Regions from separate parts of the Homo sapiens genome. Here regions 1 and 2 are each linked to region 3. Evidence: fine-mapped expression QTL. A gene starts in region 3. Each other region holds a variant in brackets. All regions are shown on one strand. Distances are from middle to middle. Region 1 overlaps LOC124903145 (a long non-coding RNA gene). Region 2 has its middle 42 kb from the start of LINC00385. Region 3 holds the start of KATNAL1 (katanin catalytic subunit A1 like 1).

The links.
Region 1: its variant is fine-mapped to the expression of KATNAL1 in tibial nerve (GTEx, PIP 0.99).
Region 2: its variant is fine-mapped to the expression of KATNAL1 in whole blood (TOPMed, PIP above 0.99). The same link has a PIP of 0.9 or more in unexposed skin.

The regions. Positions count from the first base shown.
Region 1 is chr13:30,328,900-30,333,144 of GRCh38, reverse strand. The region is part of intron 1 of LOC124903145 (a long non-coding RNA gene); the gene reads right to left. Among named protein-coding and RNA genes, the nearest start is that of LINC00427, 11 kb to the right of the region's middle. The variant G/A (reference allele first, on the strand shown) is at 2,253.
Region 2 is chr13:30,193,305-30,197,549 of GRCh38, reverse strand. No RefSeq gene overlaps it. Among named protein-coding and RNA genes, the nearest start is that of LINC00385, 42 kb to the right of the region's middle. The variant C/T (reference allele first, on the strand shown) is at 1,952.
Region 3 is chr13:30,305,085-30,309,329 of GRCh38, reverse strand. KATNAL1 (katanin catalytic subunit A1 like 1) reads left to right here and starts at 1,779. Exons shown (of 11, transcript NM_032116.5): 1 at 1,779-1,999. RefSeq lists silencers at 1,775-2,004, 2,035-2,144.

The DNA of each region.
Region 1 (4,245 bases), 24 kb before region 3:
TTAGCTTAAGTCACACTTTCCTCCTCCACACCAGGTGGTACTGTATGAAAATACTAAGGTTGACCTTTTTGCAAAATGTAATTGTGCATGTAAATTTAAAATGGTTATATTTATCAATGGCTACTAATGGTGAGTAAACAAGGTATAAGCATGTTAGCTGAAAGAAGAGCTTATTTGAAATATAAATAAGACAACTCATGCATTTGCTCTCTGTTCCTTTTTTCTGCAAATAGCCTGCACTCTGCTGTTAACAGTGACCTTTCCTTCTAGCCCTGTCATTCTATAATTATCTAATATGTTATGTGTGCTTTGCATACTATGTAGACTATACTACACAGAATAGAATGCATATTGTATGCAGTCTGCTAGGCTTACTACCTTTTAATAGTTTACTAGGCATAAAAAGGTTAAGAACCAATAAAGGGCATGCACGCTGCATTAGTCAGCTCTCGCTGTCATAAAAAATATCACTGACCAGGTGGCTTAAAACAACAGAAATTTATTTTCTCACTGTTCTGTAGACTAGAAGTCCAATATCAAGGTGCCAGTAAATTTTGTTTCTGGTGAGGCCTCTCTTCCTGGCTTGCCTGACGGTGCCTTCTCGCCTTGTCCTCACATGGCCTTTCCTCTGTGTGTGTGCTCACATGTGCAGAGAAAGACAGCTCTCTGGTGTCCCTTCTCCTAAGGACACCAGTCCTGTGGGATTCGGGCCCCACCCTTATGATCTCATTTAAACTTAGTTACCACCTTAAAGGCCCTATCTCCAAATACAGTCACCTTGGGGATTAGGGATGCAACATGAATTGTTGGGGGGACACAATTGAGACAATACCGTGTGCAATGCACACACACACACACACCCTTAGGATAAGAGAGAATGAGGAGGAGAGAGGGGAGATGCTCAATGCATTGAAAATGAGGTCTTTAGGGACCTTATTAAGCACACTGCCTCTATGGCATATAGAGAGTAAGCCACATATTAAATTATCCAGCAGTGAATTGACTTGTAAACTGGACACTTTAGGAACCTGTATTTGAAGAGGAGGGAAGATAGATAGGATCAATGTCATTTTTTTTTTCTGAATATATATGTATTCTAAGGAGAGTGAATAAGTGAGTGGGGGACATTGACTGATACTGTATCTGGAAGGAATCTCAAGAAATCATCTGATTTAATGGTTGAAGGTAAGAATCAGTTCTGATGAAGAAGAGGATCACTGATTCAGAATAGAAAGGGGATTGCTTTTCGGAGACTGGTGAGATGCTGGCACTGCAGAGAAATGGGTTAAGGGAAGGTCAGGATTTTAGAAAAGGATACAATTATGTGAAGCTAGGAGTGGCTGGGAAGCCTTCATGTGACTTAGATCATTTTCAAAAGATGACATCCATGAAGTGACTGAAACAAAGGAGGTGACACATGGGCTGTGGGGTTGGAACTACAGTGTCATCTGCATTCTTTGACTTCCATGACTGTCTAAATTTCTGTGCAAATGCAGAACAACAAGACCCTGGACTGTTACTGGCAAGTTGAATGTGTGGGCGCCCTGCCACCAACCCTCAGCTTTCTGGCCAGAGATGTGCTGAAGGGCTCTTCTACTGTTTTCGCTGTGGATAGACATTTATCTTCTGCCTTTCAGAAACCACGCAGGAGATGTGCCTTGCTCAGGGTTTCCATGGGGCGGGCTGGGGCAGTGAGCCAGCCAACCTTTGAAATTGAAGAAGCACAGAAGGCCCATGCCCTTGGGCCGTACTAGTGATCTCAGCAACTGAGACTGAGTTTGATCCTCCAAGCATCTGAGAGATGTTTTATTGTGTCGGTTCCTGGAATAAAGGGAGTATCTTTTTGGGACAAGCACAATAACTTTTGAAAAAGTGCAGGAAAATACTTGCTCCAGAGCTGTTAGGTTTAAAAATGAACAACATGTTGAGAAATCTTTAATTTCTTGAACCTCTGTTTTAAAAAAGAAACCTCCTGATTTTAGAATTCCTTTTGTTGACAAATTAGACTTTGGAATTGTGTGAAGGAAGAACTTTTGCTTTTATTCAAGAATTCATATGTAATTGTCAAGAACTTTGAAGGGGTTGAGATTTTACCCCACTTGCAAGCTAACAAGTTAGCTATTCCAAGTTAGTTTCATGGATAGTGGGAAAAGACGTGAGACTGTTGAGTCAGGGAGATGGTTTATTATCTGCAGCCATAGCAGTAGATAAACTGTCAGCGTGCTTTAAAGAATTTATACTGGCGGCCGGGC[G/A]CGGTGGCTCACGCCTGTAATCCCAGCACTTTGGGAGGCCGAGGCGGGCGGATCACGAGGTCAGGAGATCGAGACCATCCCGGCTAAAACGGTGAAACCCCGTCTCTACTAAAAATACAAAAAATTAGCCGGGCGTAGTGGCGGACGCCTGTAGTCCCAGCTACTTGGGAGGCTGAGGCAGGAGAATGGCGTGAACCCGGGAGGCGGAGCTTGCAGTGAGCCGAGATCCCGCCACTGCACTCCAGCCGGGGCGACAGAGCGAGACTCCGTCTCAAAAAAAAAAAAAAAAAAGAATTTATACTGGCTCCCCACGTCTCAAAAGAGTGATTGAAGAGGGTCAGATTATACATGCAAATGCAGTGGGTTGCATTTTAGGACAGGAATTCTGAGCTTAGGGGACCTGAACAAAGGGCAGTAAGCATGCACGCCCTTGATTTCAGGATTACTTATTATCTCTATCTTCCAAGGATGTAGGCAAACCTACCCTTTGCTCCCAAGGTACATATGATCTCTGTTTTCAAGTTTGTTCACTACAGAAACATCCTTCAAAAGATAGGCCAGAGCAAAGGACAGGCAGTGTTTCTACTCAAAATATACAGAAATGCAGCCCGGCATGGTGGCTCACACCTGTAATCTCAGCACTTTGGGAGGCTGAGGCAGGTGGATCACTTGAGCCCATGAGTTCAAGAACAGCCTGGGCAACATGGTGAAACCCAGTCTCTACTAAAACAAACAAACAAACAATACAAAATTTAGCAGGGCATGGTGGTGCGTGCCTGTAATCCCAGCTACTCAGGAGGCTGAGGTGGGAGGATCGCTTGAACCGGGAAGGTGGAAGTTTCCCTGAGCCGAGATCTCGCCACTACACTCCAGCCTGAGTGATAGAGCAAGACCCTCCCTCAAAACAAAAACAAAAACAAAAACAAAAACAAAAACAAAAACAAAAAAAATACAGAAATGCAAGAGATCCACAGATAATTATATCCCAACAGTAATATGTCATTTAAAACTTAAATTCCTAATAAATTGAATGAAAATGAATAGTTTTACTGTACCTTATTTTCAGTTGTGCCCCAAATCCTCTCTGCAACTCCCCCTTTTTTGAAAACAGTGGTCTTGAAGAGTTTTCTGAATGTCTTATCATTATTGATGCCCCTGGGCCAAAGAAACTTCTTAAACACTGCCGGAGTCTTCTGTATACCGTGGTTTCTGCTTTAATTGTTTCTACCTCAGATTCCTTCTGGCTTAAATATTTCCTCTTTCATGCCTCTGTCCAGGTGACTACCTGCTAGTTATTACCTCTTCTCCACTCCCTGGACTCAGCAATGTTTTCTATCTTCCTACTCCCAACATTTGGTTATTCTGGGTTTCGTGTCATTTGCTCTTGCCTACACGATTTATGAAAGAAGACAAATCCTGACCTTGATCAACTCCACTCCTGAATGCCTTGGCCTCTATCACTGCATAAAGCTGGAAAGAATCTTAAAAGCTGTCTGGTCCAACCTGCTCATTTTACAGATCTGTGGGGCTCTGTGGTCAAATGAACAAAGGAAATACTAAGTTTAAAAAGTTAAACAGGTGCAACCACTTTGGAGAGCTGTTTGGCAGTTTTTATAACATTGAACATATATACCCTATGGTCCAGCAATTTCACTTCTACATGTTTACCCAAGAAAAATGAAAACATATGTCTACAAAAAGACTTACATAAGAATGTTCATACCAGCCTTACTCATTATAGTCAAAACTTGGAAACCACCCAAATATCCATCAACAGGATAATGGATAAACAAATTATGAGATATGTGTGTATATATATATATATATATAATCTCTCTATATATTACAATATAGATGTATATAATCTATCACACTTATTTACATACACAATGCAATACAACTCAACAATGAAAAAAAGAACTACTAATATACACAACAGCATTGACACAACTAAAATATCTTCACACTGAGCAAAAGAAGCAAGCCACACAAA
Region 2 (4,245 bases), 110 kb after region 3:
AAACCTCTTGCATTAAGGGAGACTTTTACCTTTTACTTTGTATTTTTTCATATGATAATTATTTACTTTGTAAAAGAAATATAAAATTATAAAAAATTTTTAAAGCAATATTTGTAGACATCAAATCAGTGTCTGCCCTTCTGTCTCCCAGAAGCCCTTGGCCTAAGTAAGAGTCAATCATAGCTCTTGACCCCATTTCATTTGACCCATAGGGCAGGATTGTGTTGACCACTGTCACTGTCACTCTCACCTAGGACAGTGCTCTTCAGGCTTTGTTAACAATAAAGTGTGTGTGAGTTACACACTGTTACTATGTTGGTAGTTTAAGGATACTTGTAAATTATAGTAGTGCTTGTATATAATTTATAAAAATCCATGAAATGTAGAAATATGGAAGACTATAATGTGAAGACACTGAAAAGTAATCTTACTGCTACAAAATCCTTCCAAAAAATAGGAGTAATATTTTCATTGAGAGCCATGACATTAAATATACTTTATTTTTTTTTAAATCTTAGGATAACAATTTAGGGACAATGATTTCATTTTTATTTCAATGCTTAGTTTTAATGACTGTTACAGCTAAAAGTGTAACTTCACAAAGGTGTGTAGATCCAAGTGGAAGAAACAGATTATTGGCTGCAATCTGAAGTAATGAGCTTCATTTTAAAATCATGCCCACTAAGCAGAAGTGTTTATTTGGCTATTTGCGTCTTTCTTGATGTCAGTTCTTGCAAATTAATTGAAAGGTTGCATTTTATGTTGAATGTTCAGAACCTATTGCACCTCTTCATTTGGAAGATTTTAAAACAAACAGGACAATTATTTTAAGTTGCACATATTAGAGTTCTTAAAAAAGAGGCTCAGTGTTTTTGACAACAAAATCATGTAACAATGGAAAAACATTTCCCAACATCACTTTTCTTTATGTAACATGGATTTCTTTCATATAGTAATTATTTTCTCATCCCTTTTTTAAAAAAAGAATAAAGTTGTAGAGTAGAGGAAGTAAGCATTTCATTTAACCTAAATATGTATATGAGCCTGTTTCTGTGCATACAGCAAAAATTTAATAAAACAATAGCTTTGCCTTTATTATATATGATACATTCTGACATTTTCTAATTGGTTTCATTTTGTAAAATTCCTGGACCTGCCCCAGGAAATTGATTTCATTACTTGTTAATGGTGGACAGCTTGCAATTTCAGACCTCCTCCTGGACTGCAGGGTGCCACTGGCTGCAGCCCTGGCCCTCTCCCAGCTTCCTCTGTGCGGATTACTCAGTGACGCATTTGATGAGTGGCCTGGTGAGCAGCAGCAGCCATGCCTGGTTTCCTGGCCACCTGGGGGCTCATCCTTCATGCTATTCCTGACAGGCCATTGTGAGTCTCTTTATCGTTTGAACCTGGCCAATCAGGTTCTCAGGGTCAGGCCCTGGGCATCTGCCCTCTCTCTGCCTTCCTCCCTAACCCTCAAATGCCTGGGGATTCTAACTATCCCAGTGGTGGTTTTCTTGATTTTGATCAGTCTAGACATGATAGTTCTTGAAAGATTTAAGACACGCTTAATTTCTGTTGAGTTTTTATTTCTCCTCAGTCTTAAAATTATTCCTGACTTCTAGATATGATATGAATATGTCACTGTTCATTCCTTTTTAAAAAGTCAGCAGTGATCCCTGTGCCAGTGTCAAAAACAGTTTCTCCATCTGATGTTAAAAACATCCCCTGGGGAAGGACCAGCTCACTGTGCTTCTTGTGCTAGTATAGGACATTTAGATAGCTGCCAGCTCCCTAGGGCAACACAGCTGCTTGGTGACCTCTCTTTGTTCCTGGAAAAGGAATAGGGCTCTTCAGTTATAGTACATGGTATTGGAATCGTTCAAGGGAGGACCAAGAGAGGAACAGAGACTCTTAGTCACTAACAGGAAAGTGTTAAGGTTTGAGAGTCAGA[C/T]TGGAAGGAAGAATCAAGGAAGGAGAGGATCGAGTTTTCAAGGGAAAGGAATCCTTATGTGTTCTGCTGTGAGTGGGTGAAGAAGGTTGACAGAAGCCACAAATAGTTGGTCTTATTTGGACTGTGCCTCCTGTGGCCAAGGCACTGTTCCTGCTATTTGGCTAGATACTTATTGGCTATTTAAAACAGGCCTCTTTTGGATCATGAGATGTATTTGGGTATTGTGAGAACTTCAAGTCTGCAGTCAGAAAACAATTCTAGCCTCAGCTGTACCACTTCTAAGCTGTGGGACTTTGGGCAAGTTACTTATCCTCTCTGTGGCTGTGTTATCTCACCTCAAAATGGAGATGATAACAGGACCTTCCTTTGTAGGACCATTGGGAAGATTAAATGAGATACTGAATTTAAAGTGCTTATCACGGCACCATACAAACCCTTAATGTTAGCTGCAGTGATGTGCGAGGGCTGGTACATACCAGGCTGTCCCAAAGCCAACTGTGGAATGTTAAGGAATGTCGCAAGCCTTTCCACCGTTGATAGCTGAAACTGTAGCCGCGGTGAGAGGATTCACACATGGAAATTGGCAAACACTACACATCAGGGCTTTACCTATCCCCTATCCCCCTGGAAGAGTTAGTTTACCAGCGTATCACAGGTTAGCTCTTTTTATTTTTGTGGAGTTTTTTTCCCCACTGCAAGTAATGCGGGTCCACGTGTGTACCCTGGCTCTTTGTCGCTCCCTCTGAAAAAAGTGGATGCAGTGAGGGTAATACTCCTAAGCTTGCCAGTCGTTGTGAACAGGTCAGTCTGACTTTCAGTGAGCCATTTTTGACTCAAAGAGTGAATGGCTGTTTTGGGGTCTGCCAAAATTAGGGGCCCTTCTCTTCCCTGAACTAGACTATATACTCTGATACTTTTATCGCAGTGTTACAGAAGTCTTAGGATACTAGTAGTGGACAAAAATATTCCCCTTCCCTTTTATTCCCTGAGAAATACAGTCTGAGCTGTATCTAGGCAATACCCACACTGCCTTCAGACTTTTTCCGAAGTGGAGTTCATCAATCATCCAGGAGGCTCTGAGCCCCATGATTGGCATGGCTTACCTAGTGGCCGTGGTAGACATATGCGCATGGAGGCATTTTGCTGAGGGCTTGTGAGAGCTATTTGGCACCTTTTCCAGCAAAGGTGGGAGAGGAAGGAGGAGAAGAGGTTCTGTTCTCACCTATTTTAATACCCGAACCAAAAAATGGAAGTTGCTGGTAGCACTGAATTAGAACTCTTGCCTCATTTAGCACACTAATCATCAAAAGTCTCTATTTTCAATAGAAGCAAAGCATAATTTCTCAATAAAGAGGCACTTCAAATAGGGGATTTACAAACATTACACATTGTCTTTCCTGTTGCAGCTATGAAACATACCTTCTAGAGAAAATCACACAGATTTTGTTTACTTTGCTTAAGAATTGCAGACTAGAGTCATGATTTGTTAGTCTCATTTGCTTTTCACAAGAAAAAGCATTATATAATGTCCGAGGGTCTCAGGTTCCATAACGGGGACTTTCCCAAGGTCTTTCATAACGAAAGTTTCTGTGCAGCCCATGGGAGATTACACAGGGAGGGAGTCTGGAGACTCTCACGAGGACTTATTTTTGTCTATTCTAATTTGAATCTCATACAAGTATTTCTATAGGCCTATTATTTACACCTATATATCAGTCCAACTTACTGAATGCCAACAAATTTGAGACACAACTCCTGTCCTCAAGGAACTCATGTCCTGGTAGAGAAAGCCATGAAGCAGTCATAGGATACTGTGTGTGGTTATAACAGCATGCACCTGAGAAATGGTCTGGAGGAGGTGAGGTCAGCCACGTGCTGAAGCAAGCAGAGGTGTTTGCCAGGTGGCTAAGGAGGGAATATTAACCCAGGGGTGGGTGATGGTCCCCACCTTCCGGATGATTTACTGTATAGTTGCGTTTGCCCCTTAGCATGATTTCTTTGACAGCTGTTGATGGAGAGCTCTGTGAGGACGAGGAGCGCTCTCATTGTTGCCTCCTCCACAGGGTTTTGCAAGTTGTAGGTGCTCAAATCCCCGATGGGAAATGAGAACCTTAGCATACAAAAAAAAAAAAAAAAAAAAAAAACCTCCTTTCTTCACTAGGACCCTGTATGCAAAGCAGTTCCGAAGAGCACTGATAGGAAAAACTGAATTCACTGCATGATGACAACAGAGCTGGGATTCAAAATCAGCTCCTAAGCAGTAATCTGGAGCAAAGTCATTGTCTAGTCTGTGG
Region 3 (4,245 bases):
TACACTGTGGACTGAATCAAATAGAATATGAGGATACATATGTGAAAAAATATTATTTTAATAGCTGGCTCCAGAGTTCCTCTTGGGAAGTTACTTTGTGTAGGAAAAAACTTTGGTAAACAGTTTAGGAATGGCAGGTAGCTATGAAGGCACAGATTAGGAGATGGAAATAAAAGTATTGTATAAAGAGAGGAGAGGAGGGGAGAGATGGGACCAGAAAGATGGTACAATAGTGGGAGGTTACAGGTTATGATGAAAAAATGGGGGTAGGTGGTAGGTGGATAAAAATATCATGGGAGGAACTGAAGGACTTTTAAGAGCAGGGATTTCTAATTTTAGGTTTTTTGCATCCTTAATTTAAAACCACTTATCTGCTCCAAACCTTCTAAAGAGTTGGCTATAGAAACAACCAAAGAAAAGGGGCTGATTTCGAAATTATGTGTCAGCAGGAGTAGAGAGAGGAGAGTTGTAAGAGGTGATATGTGGAGAGGTCTAAGTGTTCAGGAAAAGCAAGAACTGAGAGCCAGAAGTGACGGTGCAATCCTTGAGAGGACATTGGCCGTGGGGAACACCACAAGGTGGATAAGGGACTCAGTCAAGTTCAAGAAAATCTCTGTGGTAGGATGACTCAGCTGGATTACAGGAGCCATTTTTGTTATTTTCAACCATAATTTTTCAGGAGATATTCATTACTAGAAAATGACAAGGTCACGAATTCACTCCCCTTCCTCTTTTTTTCTATTAAATTTCTGGGCCTCAGTTTTCCCATCTATAAAATCTAGAGATTGGGCCTAGAATATCTCTGTAGTTTCCATTAGAGTCTATAGCTCTAATAATAATAACAACACATTTTTATGTTCTCTTTTGAGGTAAATTTACATGCAGTGAAATGTACAAATCTTAAATGTCCCATTCCAAGAGTTTTGACAAGTGCATATACTTCTGTAACCGAAACTCTTAGCTATAGAATTTTTTCATCACTACAAAAAATTCTCTCAAACTCCTCCCCGACAGCCAACCACTATTCTGACTTTTATCACTATTGATTAAATAATTAATATTTAATAGCTATTGTTAAATGCTAAGCTTTGTTTTATAGAGCTTCATCAGTATTAATGCGTGTATTTCTTACAAGAGTTGCAAGATGGATATCTCCATTTTTGCAGATCAAAACGTTAAGAGGTGAGAAAGGCGCCTCTGGTCATCAGCTACCAAGCACAGGGGCAGGACGTGAACTAAGAATTCGTTTTAGAAGCCCACGCTCTTAACCTGTTTATCCTAGAGTCCACAAACGATTGCCAAGAAACAGCATAAATCCAAATTCAGTCGAAAGCAATGCCATTTGCAAATTCTAAAACCTCCTGAATAATCCTAAAGGCCATATGCATTCCATCTTATCGAAGGATTCCCTTCTATCCCCCTCCCCAGAGAATGGAGAAAGGGGGTGCGAAAGACTTCAATTCGGTTTGACTGGAGAAAAACACAGAGGTGGCGTAGGATCCACACATCCCTTGGGGGCAGACCCAGCGGCGGACGCCTGGACAGGCGGCGGGAAAGGCGCTGCGACGCCCCGGGTGCCCCCTCCTTCGACGCCACTGGCATCACCTCCGAAAGCAGCAGGCACGAAGGTGCCCTGCCACGGGGGCTGGACGCAGTGGAGGCAGGCTCATCAAGCACGACCAGAGCTCAGTCGGCCACACGTCCTCCTCAATGTCACTGTCTCCCTGCTCTCCCACCCCGCGCCGCTGCACCTCCCTCCCCCCGGCAACCTGGGCGGGAGTCCCAAGCTCCGCCCCAGAGCGGACTCACAGCCCCCGCGCTCCCTCCCGCGCTGCGCCCACCGCGCGGCCGCGGCTGCCATGGCAACACTACGCCGCCGCCGCCTTTTCACGCACGTCGCGAGCTAACGGACTCGGCGGCGGCGGCGGCGGCGGCCTGCGCCCCACCCGCACCCCATCTGGACCGCATCGCTGAATGTGCCCGGACCTGCGCCTTCTGGGTAATGAATCCGAGAGAAAGGGGCGAGGGCGAGACAGCAGGTGGTGGAGGGCTCTAGCCAACAGCCCCTCTCGGCCTCCCACTGCCGGAGACGCCAGGGCAGTGGGCTGCGGGGTTCCTCGGGCGCTGGCTCCCGTGCGGGGACGGGGAGGGGCGCGGGAGCGCCAGGCTCGCGGTGCATCATGGGAATTGTAGTTCAGCGACTCCTCGGGCTCGCGGTCTTGGTGGGGTAGCTCGGACTGGCGAACTACAAAGCCCGGCGGCCCCGACCGCCGGGAAAGACCGATAAACTTTGAGCGGACCGGGACAGAAAAAAAAATCTCTCTTTGTCTTGAGGGGGCTGTTGAGTGGTCGCGGACCTGGGCTCTGTGCGTTGGGAAAGGGAAGTGGAGGTGAGCCTCGGGCTTCCCGCCCTGTAGCTGGGCCCGCCCCAGTTGCAGCGCTCAGCCCCACCCCGGCTGGGCCACCGCCCTGCACAGTCTCAGGGATGAGCAGCCGCCCAAGCTGCAGGGCCTCGGGTCTTCGGCGCCTCTGACCCTCGCAGGTTGCTGCCTTTCGGTGCAGAACCGTATGTATGTCACACATTGGATGTGAGACCTGAGAAACCGTGTTTTAACAGGTTTTTCTCCTTTCCTGGATACGTTTATTTCTGGGTTAGTCATGTTTGTTTTAAAGTAGCTCAGAGGTGTTTGCATATTAAACCCATCAATTGGTAATTACTCAAAGGGCAGTAATGTTTAAAGGTTAAGTGTGGAAATAGATAAAAAGATGTCATTGCGATTATATGGTGGTATCTGGCATTTTTAACTTTTTGCATTTTTGAATTTTATTTCTTGAGGTTCAAGGTTGTGAAATGAGTGCTCCACCCCACCCCCCCCTTGCCAGCCTGAACACTGCCTACACATATTTTGATTAGTTCAGCTTTAAATTACTAGTAACTTTTAAAAACAGACTTTTTTAGCAGTAGGCAGCAATAATTCTTTGATTATTCCAGTGTTATTCAGAATTTCTCAGCATGTTTTCGGAAGGAAAAATACCATGTTTTAATTATTTAGTTAATTCTTTATATATTTTTTATGTTCAGGAGTACACTTGAGTCCTTAGAGTTGACTCAAAGACTTGCTGGTAAAGGAAGCTGACACAGATTTACGAAACCTTCCTTGACGACCCTTTAAAATTTTTTAATAGGTAGATAACCATCCTAGAAATTTGCTGCTTTATGGAGTAAGTTGGAGAATTGTTGATATTATTGTGAGTTTGTGTGTGTGTGTGTTTAAAAACAAAAAGACCACAAATCCTATAAAACTTTCTCTTAATTAAAATGAAGTTGACCTGTGTAAATTTTACTTGAGGTTGCAATTTTGTACAAGGAGGAGATGGAAAGTAGGTTTAGTAAGACAGGTAGAAAACAAAATTGAGGCCTTATGTGATACAACATAAGGTTTGAAGTATTTTATTTATTCATTCAAAATGTGTTAGGAACCTATGTGCCAGGCATTATGCCAGGTGGTGAGAATAAAGAGATGAAAAAAGATAGTCTGTATCCTGCATGGGCAGTCTTGTCATCACAGTAGTGTGGTAGAGATAAGTGCAAGTTGCTCTAGGAGCCCAGAGGAAATAATCACATAACAGTAACATTTATTGAATATGTCAGGTGCTGTGAGGAGTATTTTGCATGCAACTCCTTACTTAATCCTCAAAACAGTTGGTGAAGTAGTTACTGATTTTTAGAGATGAGGAAACAGGCTTTAGAGGCCTTGCTCAAAATCATAGCTGGTAACGTGTGAACCTGGGATTTCAGCCCAGGTGGGTCTGGTCCTGATCTCAAGCACTGACCATTCTCTGTCATTTAGTAGAAAGATCCTGACTCTGTCTAAGGAAGTCAGGGGAGGCCTTCAGTGTGATTTGACTTTTAACTTGTGTTAAAATAGTTGAATAAGCTTTCACTGGAGTGATGATGAGGAAAGTCATTCTAGGACAAATGGATGGCACAAAATAAGCAAAGGATAGATTGAAGAATCAGTATTTTGTATTTGGGAAACGCTAGGTAGTTCTGAATGACTGGATCCCAGAATACTTGCAATTAGTGGGTGAGGCCAGATCTTAAAGTACTTGGCACCATATTCAGAGTTTAGAATTTTTCTTGATATAGGGCAGTCATTGAAGAATTTTAGCTAGAGTGGTGGTGGCGTCAGATTTGTATTTTAGAAAGATAACTCCAGCCCCAGTGTAGAGAATGGACCTGGG